2 separate regions of the Homo sapiens genome follow, and region 2 is linked to region 1. The links come from fine-mapping of genetic effects on gene expression. A gene starts in region 1. The other region holds a variant in brackets. All regions are shown on one strand. Distances are from middle to middle.

Region 1 (5,237 bases):
ATTTACAGTGTGTTATTCTTTTCACATGCTACAGGATACTTCAGTTATTTTTTTTGCTTCTTTTTTGGAGACATTCTCTCACTCTGTTACCCAGGCTGGAGTATAGTGGCATGATAAGAGCTCATTGCAGCTTCAAACTCCTGGGCTCAAGTGATCCTGCCTCAGTCTCCCGAGTAGCTGGGACTACAAGTGTGCATCATTACGCCCAGTTTTTTTAAAAAAATGTTTGTGCAGATGCGGGTCTCACTATATTGCCCAGGCTGGTCTCAAACTCCTAGGCTTAAGCAGTTTGGGAGGCCCACCTCAGCCTCCCAAAGTGATGGCGTGTCCGAAATTGGTGGGTTCTTGGTCTCACTGACTTCAAGAATGAAGCTGCACACCCTCGCGGTGAGTGTTACAGCTCTTAAGGCGGCGCGTCTGGAGTCTGTCCCTTCTGATGTTCAGATGTGTTCGGAGTTTCTTCCTTCTGGTGGGTTCGTGGTCTCACTGGCTCAGGAGTGAAGCTGCAGACCTTCGCGGTGAGTGTTACAGCTCTTAAGGCAGCGTGTCCGGAGTTGTTCGTTCCTCCCGGTGGGCTCGTGGTCTCGCTGGGCTCAGGAGTGAAGCTGCAGATCTTCGTGATAAGTGTTACAGCTCATAAAAGCAGCGTGGACCCAAAGAGTGAGCAGTAGCAAGATTTATTGCAAAGAGCGAAAGAACAAAGCTTCCACAGCGTGGAATGGGACCCGAGCAGGTTGCCAATGCTGGTTTGGGCAGCCTGCTTTTATTCTCTTATCTGGCCCCACCCACATCCTGCTGATTGGTAGAGCCCAGTGGCCTGTTTTGTCAGGGTGCTGATTGGTGCGTTTACAATCCCTGAGCTAGATACAAAGGTTCTCCACGTCCCCATCAGATTAGTTAGATACAGAGTTTCGACACACAGGTTCTCCAAGGCCCCACCAGAGCAGCTAGATACAGAGTGTCGATTGGTGCATTCACAAACCTTGAGCTAAACACAGGGTGCTGACTGGTGTATTTACAATCCCTGAGCTAGATATAAAGACTCTCCACGTCCCCACCAGACTCAGGAGCCCAGCTGGCTTCACCTAGTGGATCCCGCACCGGGGCTGCAGGTGGAGCTGCCTGCCAGTCCTGCGCCGCCGTGCGCTCGCATTCCTCAGCTCTTGGGTGGTCGATGGGACTGGGCGCCGTGGAGCAGGGGGTGGCGCTCATCGGGGAGGCTTGGGCCGCACAGGAGCCCATGGAGTGGGTGGGAGGTTCAGGCATGGCGGGCTGCAGGTCCCGAGCCCTGCCCCGTGGGAAGGCAGCCAAGGCCCGGCGAGAAATCGAGCGCAGCGCCGGTGGGCCAGCACTGCTGGGGGACTCAGTACACCCTCCGCAGCCACTGGCCCGGGTGCTAAGTCCCCCATTGCCCGGGGTCAGCAGGGCTGGCTGGCTGTTCCGAGTGCGGGGCCCACCAAGCCCACGCCCACCCGGAACTCCAGCTGGCCCGCAAGTGCCGCACACAGCCCCAGTTCCCGCTCGTGTCTCTCCCTCCACACCTCCCTGCAAGCTGAGGGAGTGGGCTCCGGCCTTGGCCAGCCCAGAAAGGGGCTCCCACAGTGCAGTGGGGGACTGAAGGGCTCCTCAAATGCCACCAAAGTGGGAGCCCAGGCAGGGGAGGTGCCGAGAGCAAGCGAGGGTTCTGAGGACTGCCAGCACGCTGTCACATCTCAATGGGGGGTTACAAGACATGAGCCACAGCACCCAGCGTAGTTAATATTTTATTTAGAATTTTTCCACTGATACTTACATGTGAAATTGGTCTGTCGTGTGTGTGTGCGTGATATCTTTGTTGATTTTGGTATCAAAGTTATGTTTACTTTTTAAAAAGAGTTTGGAAGACTTCCATCTTTTTTGTGCTCTGGGACAGAATTAATAGCATTTGAGTCAATTACTCATTTGTGTGGAATTTTCTTGCAAGACATGGAGGGCTTTTGTAACTTTTAGGGGTGAAGGTGAAGGTGAAAGTGGGCCATGGTGGTAGCAAGGATAGTTCTTTGATAAACTTCTCTATTTTTTCTGTGGTAACGGTTTGCTTAAATTTTGTCTCTTCCAGGATCTATTTTGATAAATTGTATTTTCTTGTAACATCATCCATTTCATCCAGAGTTTTAAGTTCACTTGAAGTTAAGCAAAATTAGCATCTTACAAATCTATAATTTGTTTCCTGTGTCTGTGATTTTCCCCTGCTTGTTTTTTAAATCATGTCAAATGTGCATTTTTCTCTATTTCTGATTAGATAACTATTTTATTTTTTGTGAACCTGTGGGTTTATTAGTCCTTTGACACTGGTTTCCTGAATTCATTTATTTATTCCTTTATCTTCCCTAATTTCTCCCTCCTGCTTTCCTCATGAAGCATCTACATGTAGTGTTTACAGTTTCTTTATTCTCTAGATGTTCCTCAGTTTGCTCTTTGACTTCCTCTTTTTCCCAATAGTCAGTTAGAATACCTGTTTTAAGCTCAGGTGGTTTAAAGATTTTCACTTTAGCTTATTTATTTTTTCATCCCTGAGAGCACTAGAGAATTGTGTATCCTGCTGTCCATCCGCATTTGGCTTCTTCCCCAGGGTTCTTCTCCCAGAAGGTGACGAGAGCGAAGAAACCCCACGGGATGCAGGAAGAAACAGTGACAGGCAACCAAGAGGGGGAGGATGGAGAAAACCCTTGCCTTAGTCAGAGCAGGCCCCAGGGGACGCAGAAACAAAGGCCACACCCCCACGAGCACGTGGCCAGACTGCCCAATCGTCGCTACTGAAGCCGGGCTCTGGTCTTTGATTGGTGTTCGTGGAGACGCCCTCACATTCTTGGATCAGCCCAAAGGTAGGCTCAGGCTCCGACGGTGGCCGGCGGGGGTCACGAGGCTTCGTAGTGGAGGAACGGGTTTGGCGTGTGGGACGCAGCTGCCTCTGTACTGGGGAGTCACGGAGTGGCCGGGCTCCAGGGACATGGCGGCGGCCTCTGCGGTGTCGGTGCTGCTGGTGGCGGCGGAGAGGAACCGGTGGCATCGTCTCCCGAGCCTGCTCCTGCCGCCGAGGTGGGTGGAGGGGCCATGGCTCAGTGGGCAGAGGCGGGAGCGAGGGGTGCACGGACCCGCGTGAGCGGTGGGAGGTGCGGCGGAACCCAGGGTCGGTGTGGGGAGGACGGTAGGAAAACCCCAGGCACTTTCGGAGGGGTTCTGCCGGCAGTCACGGCGTCGGGAGGAAGACATCCCCACCAGCCCTTCCCTTTCTCCCCGCTTCCGCACATCCACGCTTCAGCGCGCCTTTGGCTTCTGTTTTTCCATTTCTGAGGACTGGGCCCGCCATCCTCCAGGCTCCCCTCGCCGTCGCTGCAGCTCGTAGCCGTTTACATCGGGCTTTCGCAGCACCCCTTAGGTGGGAGCGTTGTTATAATCCGGTTCCGGGGAAGCCCAAAGGGATCAACGACTTCCTCAACGAAACACAGCTAGTAAGAAATGGGGCCGGGATGCCCTCAAAGCCATTTTTCAGTTCAGCTGTGCCCCATCAGGTGTCCAGTTCAGAGAAAGACTCCTGGAGTTCCTTCTCATTGTTAGAAGAGTGAAGTTGTCAAGAAGAGCAAATGTACCTTCCACAGAGCTGGGAAATTATTTTGTCAAAAACTCTTGTACCCAAGTTTGAACAACGCTATCAGATGACTCAGTCTAGCTCACCTGACTCCAGCTCTGTTTCAAATTTTGAGCTCTAAGCTTTGGTGGCAATAACTCTGGCAGTGAAAAAACCCTCAGGCTTGTAGATAGCTTTGCTTCTTTGTCTTCTTTTGCTTCATCGTTATCATCCTTCATCATTCTGGAAAGATTGACAGTTTAGTGTTCAAGGGCACAGACTCTGCAGTCAAGGCTGAGGTCTTAGTTAGCTACTCACTAGGTGTGTGACTTTGGGTAAGTTACTTAATATTTCTTCTTTAATTTCCTCACCTTGGAGATGATACGAGTACCTTGGGTTGTGAAAACTAAATGAATTAATTCATGGAATGAGGTTTAAGCACAATCTGGTACATAAGATCAGTCTATAAATGCAAACTCAACCATTTATATGAACGTTTGCTTGCTTTTATTTTCCAGAAATATTGTAGATGCCCTTTTTAGTTACTTAATTGTAGGAGTGCCCCAGAGAAACATAAGAAAGTTGTTGGAAGTTGGCGGGGCGCGGTAGCTCACGCCTGTAATCGCAGCACTTTGGGACGCCGAGGCGGGCAGATCACGAGGTCAGGAGATCGAGACCAACCTGGATAACACGGTGAAACCCCGTCTGTACTAAAAAATACAAAAAATTTAGCCGGGCGTGGTGACACGCGCCTATAGTCCCGCCTGTTAGTCCCAGCTACTCGGGAGGCTGAGGCAGGAGAATGGTGTGAACCCAGGAGGCGGAGCTTGCAGTGAGCTAAGATCACGCCACTGCACTCCAGCCTGGGCGACAGAGTAAGACTCCGTCTCAAATAAAAAATAAAAAAATAAAAAAAAAAGTTGGTGTAAGTAATGTTAATGTTCTTCTTGTTCTTCTGGTTTTTCTTTTCTTAGGCCTCCAGGGCTCTTCAGGATAGTACCATAGACCCATTTCCTGTCTTCCCTTTCAAAGCTTAGCTATTGTCTAAAGAACTATCCTCAAGTATGTCACTCTGGAGAGTGTTAGAGTTGTTAATGGCTTATAGAAGTAAAACTCTTTGCCAGGAGACTTGGTTCATGCCTGTATTTTCAGCAGTTTCTCAGCACTGTGGGATCCAAGGTGGGAGGATTGCTTGAGTTCAAGAGTTCAAGACCAGCCTGGGCAACACAGTGAGGCTTCATCTCTACAAAACATTAAAAAATTAGCCAGGCGTAGTGGCACACACTTGTAGTCACAGCTACTTGGGAGGATGAGGAGGGCGAGGACGGCCTGAGTCCAGGGGTTCCAGGCCGTAGTGAGCCATGATCACACCACTGTACTCCATCCTGGGTGACATCCCATCTCAAATAAAACAAAAACAAAAAAATCTTAACAGCACAGATAGTTTACATTATTTTTATGTTATGAATCTTTAGTAGCTCACAGAAAATAATCTCTGGTGGCAGAATTATAGACATGACAATAAGCTGGTATAGAGCTACCTTGAATCAGGGAAGCAGCTTCTTTTTTTTTTTTTGAGACGGAGTCTCGCTCTGTCGCCCAGGCCGGACTGCGGACTGCAGTGGCGCAA
Region 2 (5,237 bases), 94 kb after region 1:
CAGATGTTTTTATTCTTGCATTTTTTGCACATTTTTATTATTTGCTAATGTAATTCTCCTTTCCAAAGAAAATCTGACTTGCTTAAATGAATGTTTAAAGAAGTTAAAAACTGCACAGTGGAATCCACATTTAAGAAACCCCTTTATGGGCAAAAGTATTTGTCTCTTTCTCAAACAGAAATTTTATGTTGCTGTTAAAACAAAAGTGGCTTGATTTCTTAGATACACCAATAAAACAAACAGTATAATGTATCAACAGTATAATGTAACATTTAATTATGATTTCTTCTTTTTTACTTCTATTTTTTTTTTAGACAGGGTCTTGCTCTGTCACCCAGGCTGGAGTGCAGTGGCCATCATCACAGTTTATGGCAGCCTCAGCCTCCTGGGCTCAAGTGGTCCTCCCACCTCAGCCCCACAAGTAGCTGAAACCACAGGCATGCACTGCCATGCCTAGCTAATTTTTATGTATTTATTATTTATTTTTGTAGTCTCCCTTTGTTGCCCAGGCTGGTCTTGAACTCTTGGGCTCAAGCGATCCTCCCATCTCGGACTCCCAAAGTGTTGAGATTACAGGCGTGAGCCGTTGTGCCTGGCCTTTTTATGATTTCTTGATTCACAGGGAGAAATGTACCTCTCACTCAAATCAGAATATTTATATTGCTCTGGCTTGCGTGTTTCCCCCGGGGTGAAAAGAGGATGGAAGCCAAATTATAATGACGAGGTTCCTTGATGAGAAGGGGCCCGAATAAAAGGAATACGGTGTATGGTTTGGTTCTGCAGAGGATACGACAATTTGATAACATCTCTCTCTGCAAAAGGAACGCATACGGGGGCTACAGGTTGAAGACACACGCTAGGAGTTCTCTCCCCTCAGATTTCCCATCTTCCTCCTTCACTTGCTCATCTCCATTTTGTTGACATATTCTTTCTTTAGATGTATTAATACCATTAGCCTGTTTTCCCTAAAATTCCCTGATGACAGGAATTACCTGGAGTGCTTGCCAAAAGTAGATTTCTGAATTAGAATCTCTAAGGGAAAGGCCTGGCATTCTGTAGACTCAACAAATGCCCCAAGTTGTTTTGACCAGGAAGGTTTGGGAACAATGAGTTGGTCTAGTGCATCTGAAAATTTCACATTCCTACTAATCACCTGCAGCCCCCCGATTCCACTGGTCTAGAGAAGGGCTGAGAGAGTCTCCATTTCTAACAAGCTGCCAGGCTTGCAGCCCGATGACTGCTTTTTTTAAATTAAATTAAATTTTTTTTTTTTTTGAGACGGAGTTTCACTCTTGTTGCCCAGGCTGGAGTGCAGTGGCATGATCTCGACTCACTGCAACCTCTGCCTCCCAGGTTCAACCGATTCTCCTGCCTCAGCCTCCTGAGTAGCTGAGGTTACAGGTATGCACCACCATGCCCGGCAAATTTTGTATTTTTAGTAGAGACGGGGTTTCTCCATGTTAGTCAGGCTCGTCTCAAACTCCCGACCTCAGGTGATCCGCCCACCTCGGCCTCCCAAAAGTGCTAGGATTACAGGTGTGAGCCACCGCGCCCAGCCTGAGGACTGCATTTTGAGTGGCATGCATCAGTGATTCTCAAAAGGTAGTCCAGGGCCAGCAGCAGCAGCACTACCTGCGAAGTTATTAGAAATGCAAATTCTCAGCCCCACCCTACATCTCCTGCATCAGAATCTTGGGGGTGAGGCTCAGCAAGACGTCCGGTGAGATTTTTATACGTATGAAAAATCAAGAACCACAGATCAGATCTGTAGTTAGTTAGGCTTAGCTGCTTCTTACTGATTCTGGCTGGAAAGTTATTTCACTGGAGATGAACATTTGGATATTTCCAATCTTACTTGTTTTGTGTACATTTACATAGTTTAACTCCACTTGGGGAGGTGCCTTGCTGGCCACTTTGTAAAGAGTTCAGGGAATATTGGCAAGAAAGTCATCTTGGGGTATTTTGAGGGAACCTGTTCCTTGTTAGCTTCAAATTTAATGTTTAAAGATCACTACGGAAACCATGTTAGGTTAGAACAGGCTTTGCAAATGCAAATGTGAAAGGGACAAGCACACAGACAGCAGTGAGTGAGGTAGCATGGGGGAAAGGGGAGGAGAGGTTTGGCGAGCAGGGCTCTTGGAGAGCAGCTACTCCTCAGCCCCACCCAGCTAGTGCCAGGC[C/T]AGGCGGGAATGTGGGCCCAGGGCGGTCACATCTTCCAACTTTTTGCGTGAAATCTCCTGATTTTGAAATTTTGGCAAACTCTTAGATTCGTGGTAAATATTCTGTGTGCTGAACCAAGTTGGCCTTGGTTGGCAGCTCTGCCTTGGAGGAACTAGCCAGGGAGGTGATTCACCAGCCTTGCTGCCCCTCCGTGGGCCACCCTCACAAAGAAGCAAGCCAAGGCTGCTCTGCCTATGGAGTACTGGTTCTTTTGTTTCTTTACTTTCTTAATAAACTTGCTTTCATTTTATAGATTCGTCCTGAATTCTTCCTTGCGCGAGATCCAAGAACCCTCTCTTGGGGACTGGATTGGAACCCCTTTCCCATAACACTATTACTTACTTCTGGGGTTTTCATAAGAATTAATTTATGTATGAGAGTTCCCTTCTCTCCCCTGGACACTTTCCCCAAGAGTCCTTTGCTTTCTGTTTTTTGTTTGTTTTTGTTTTTGAGATGTAGTCTCACTCTGTCCCTCCGTCCCCCAGGCTGGAGTGCAGTGGCAAGATCTCCGCTCACTACAACCTCTGCCTGCCGAGTTCAAGCGATTCTCCTCCCTCAGCCTTCCAAGTAGCCTGGGACTACAGGCGTGTGCCACCACACCTGGCTAATCTTTGTATTTTTAGTAGAGACACGGTTTCACAATGTTGGGCAGGATGGTCTCTATCTCTTGACCTTGTGATCCGCCCCCCTTGGCTTCTCAAAGTGCTGGGATTACAGGCGTGAGCTGCCACGCCCGGCAGGTCCTTTGCTTTCAAAACACTATTGAGTGTTTCATTGCTGTCAAATTAAATCCAGAGGAGTATCTGAGATTCCATGTCAGTCATCTAACATGCTGTGGAAACCACAGTCTCCAAACAGGTTTCTACAGAGACTACCACTCTTTCCCTTCCTCAATTAATTACACAGAAAGGACGGGAAAGGTGCACAGGGTGAAGGGGCAGATGGGGAAAATAAAAACAAAGCAGCAAGCCAAGCTGAGGTATCACCCAGCTCTGGTGGTCCACTGCTGGGAAACTCAACCACCAACTACTTTCCATGCCCCATGAAAGGTAAGTCAGCTCTTCTCTCCAAGTAGCAACCTGATCAGCCAAAGTTTAGCGCCCATGGAAATAGTTGGAACACTTCATATTGGAAAATGAAGTTTCAGATTGTGTAATCCCTCTAGAAGCAAAGAATACTTAACAGGAAAGTAATTCCAGAGGCACATCCAGGTTTTGCAGGTCCTGAAGCTTATACAGTTTGGGGAGAACTTACTTAAGAAAAAGAGTGTGAAATGACATATACAAAAATAGTTTTGAAAGTACAAGGCAGTCTTAGCCAAATGTGGTAGAATGTTTACTTTTAAAATTTTACAAAAATCAGATGACCAGGGCCTTGGAAGGGGCCCATACAAGCAGGGGTCCTGGAGGTTTCTGAGTATCATGGAACATAGGCCTGTGTCCTGGTGACCACTGGAGGGCTGGGAGGGGTAGTGTCCGGAATGAAAGTGTTGGTGCTCTGGGGAGCTGGTGATGTTCTGTGTCTTGACCTAGGTAGGAAGGTGACTACGCAGGGGGTTATTTCACAACAATCTGTTAAGCTGCACACTTGGGTTTTTGCTTTTTTTTTTTTTTTTTTTTTTTTTGAGGTGGAGTTTTGCTCTTGTTGCCCAGGCTGGAGTGCAATGGCACAATCTCGGCTCACTGCAACTTCCACCTCCCGGGTTCAAGTGATTCTCCAATCTCAGCCTCCTGAGTAGCTGGGATTACAAGCACCCGCCACTAACGCCCGGCTAATTTTTGGTATTTTTAGAAGAGATGGGGTTTCACCATGTTGGTCAGGCTGCTCTAGAACTCCTGACCTCAGGTAGTCCACCTGCCTCGGCCTCCCAAAGTGCTGGGATTACAGGCATGAGCCATGGTGCCTGGCCTAGTTTTTGCACTTTTATGTATACTTGTTATATTTCATAATTTAAGAAATCATTTGGCCCTTTTCTAAGTTAGGGAAAATACTCATTGGATCAAATAGGTCTTCAATAAATACTTGTTGAATGAGCTAATGAATGAATGATTTTCAAATATATTCAGAAAATATACAGTAAAGGCCTAAATGTGTAAGGACATGTTATTAAATATGTGATAGTGGCCAGATGTGGTGGCTAACACCTGTAATACCAGGACTTTGAGAGGCTGAGGAAAGTAGATCACCTGAGGTCAGGAGTTTGAGACAGCCTGGCAAACATGGTGAAACCCGGTCTCTTCTAAAAATACAAACATTAGCAGGGTGTGGTGGCGTTCACCTGTAATCCCAGCTACTGGGGAGGCTGAGGCAGGAGAATCACTTGAATCCGGAAGTTGGAGGTTGCAGTGAGCTGAGATAGCACTGTTGCACTCCAGCCTGGGCAACAAGAGTGAAACTATGTCTCAAAAAAAAAAAAGTTATAGTATTATTATAGCATAGTATATTATTTTAAGCAAAAAGAGAAGTAAGATTTAATGAGAGAAAATTATATTTTACTTCATTTTTGCCTTTTTTTTTTTTTTGGAGACAGGGTCTCTGTCGCCCAGGCTGGAGTGCAGTGGTGTGATCATGGCTCACTGCAACCTCTGCCTCCTGGGGTTGGTGATCCTCCCACTTTAGCCTCCCTAGTAATTGGGACTATTATAGGTGTGCGCCACCCCACCCGGCTAATTTTTGCATTTTTTGTAGACATGGGGTTTCGCCACATTGCCCAGGCTGGTCTCGAGCCCCTGGGCTCAAGTGATCCCCCACCTTAGCCTCCCAAATTGCTGGGATTACAGGAATGCGCCATTGTGCCTGGCTCTCAATTTTGTTTTTCTACAAACCCGTATTTGTCCACTCTAATAAAGAACTAGGATTGGAGGAGAAATGGACAAGAGAAACAGGTAGAGGGAGGTACAGAAGGGAACATCCAGCATGTGTGTAGATATTTGAAGTTATTTATCTTGAGTTAATCCAAGGCAAATCTTCAATTTTTGTATTACAATTTATAAAATGCATCTTTCTCCTAAAAGAAA

The links. PIP is the estimated chance that this variant, and not a neighbour inherited with it, causes the effect. A credible set is the group of variants that fine-mapping cannot tell apart.
Region 2: its variant is the best candidate, but not a certain one, in a credible set for the expression of MCCC1 in whole blood (TOPMed, PIP 0.70).

Annotation. Positions count from the first base shown.
Region 1 is chr3:183,097,193-183,102,429 of GRCh38, reverse strand. MCCC1 (methylcrotonyl-CoA carboxylase subunit 1) reads left to right here and starts at 2,934. Exons shown (of 19, transcript NM_020166.5): 1 at 2,934-3,078. The coding sequence starts at 2,990. RefSeq lists an enhancer at 2,869-3,008.
Region 2 is chr3:183,003,692-183,008,928 of GRCh38, reverse strand. No RefSeq gene overlaps it. Among named protein-coding and RNA genes, the nearest start is that of DCUN1D1, 26 kb to the right of the region's middle. The variant C/T (reference allele first, on the strand shown) is at 2,181.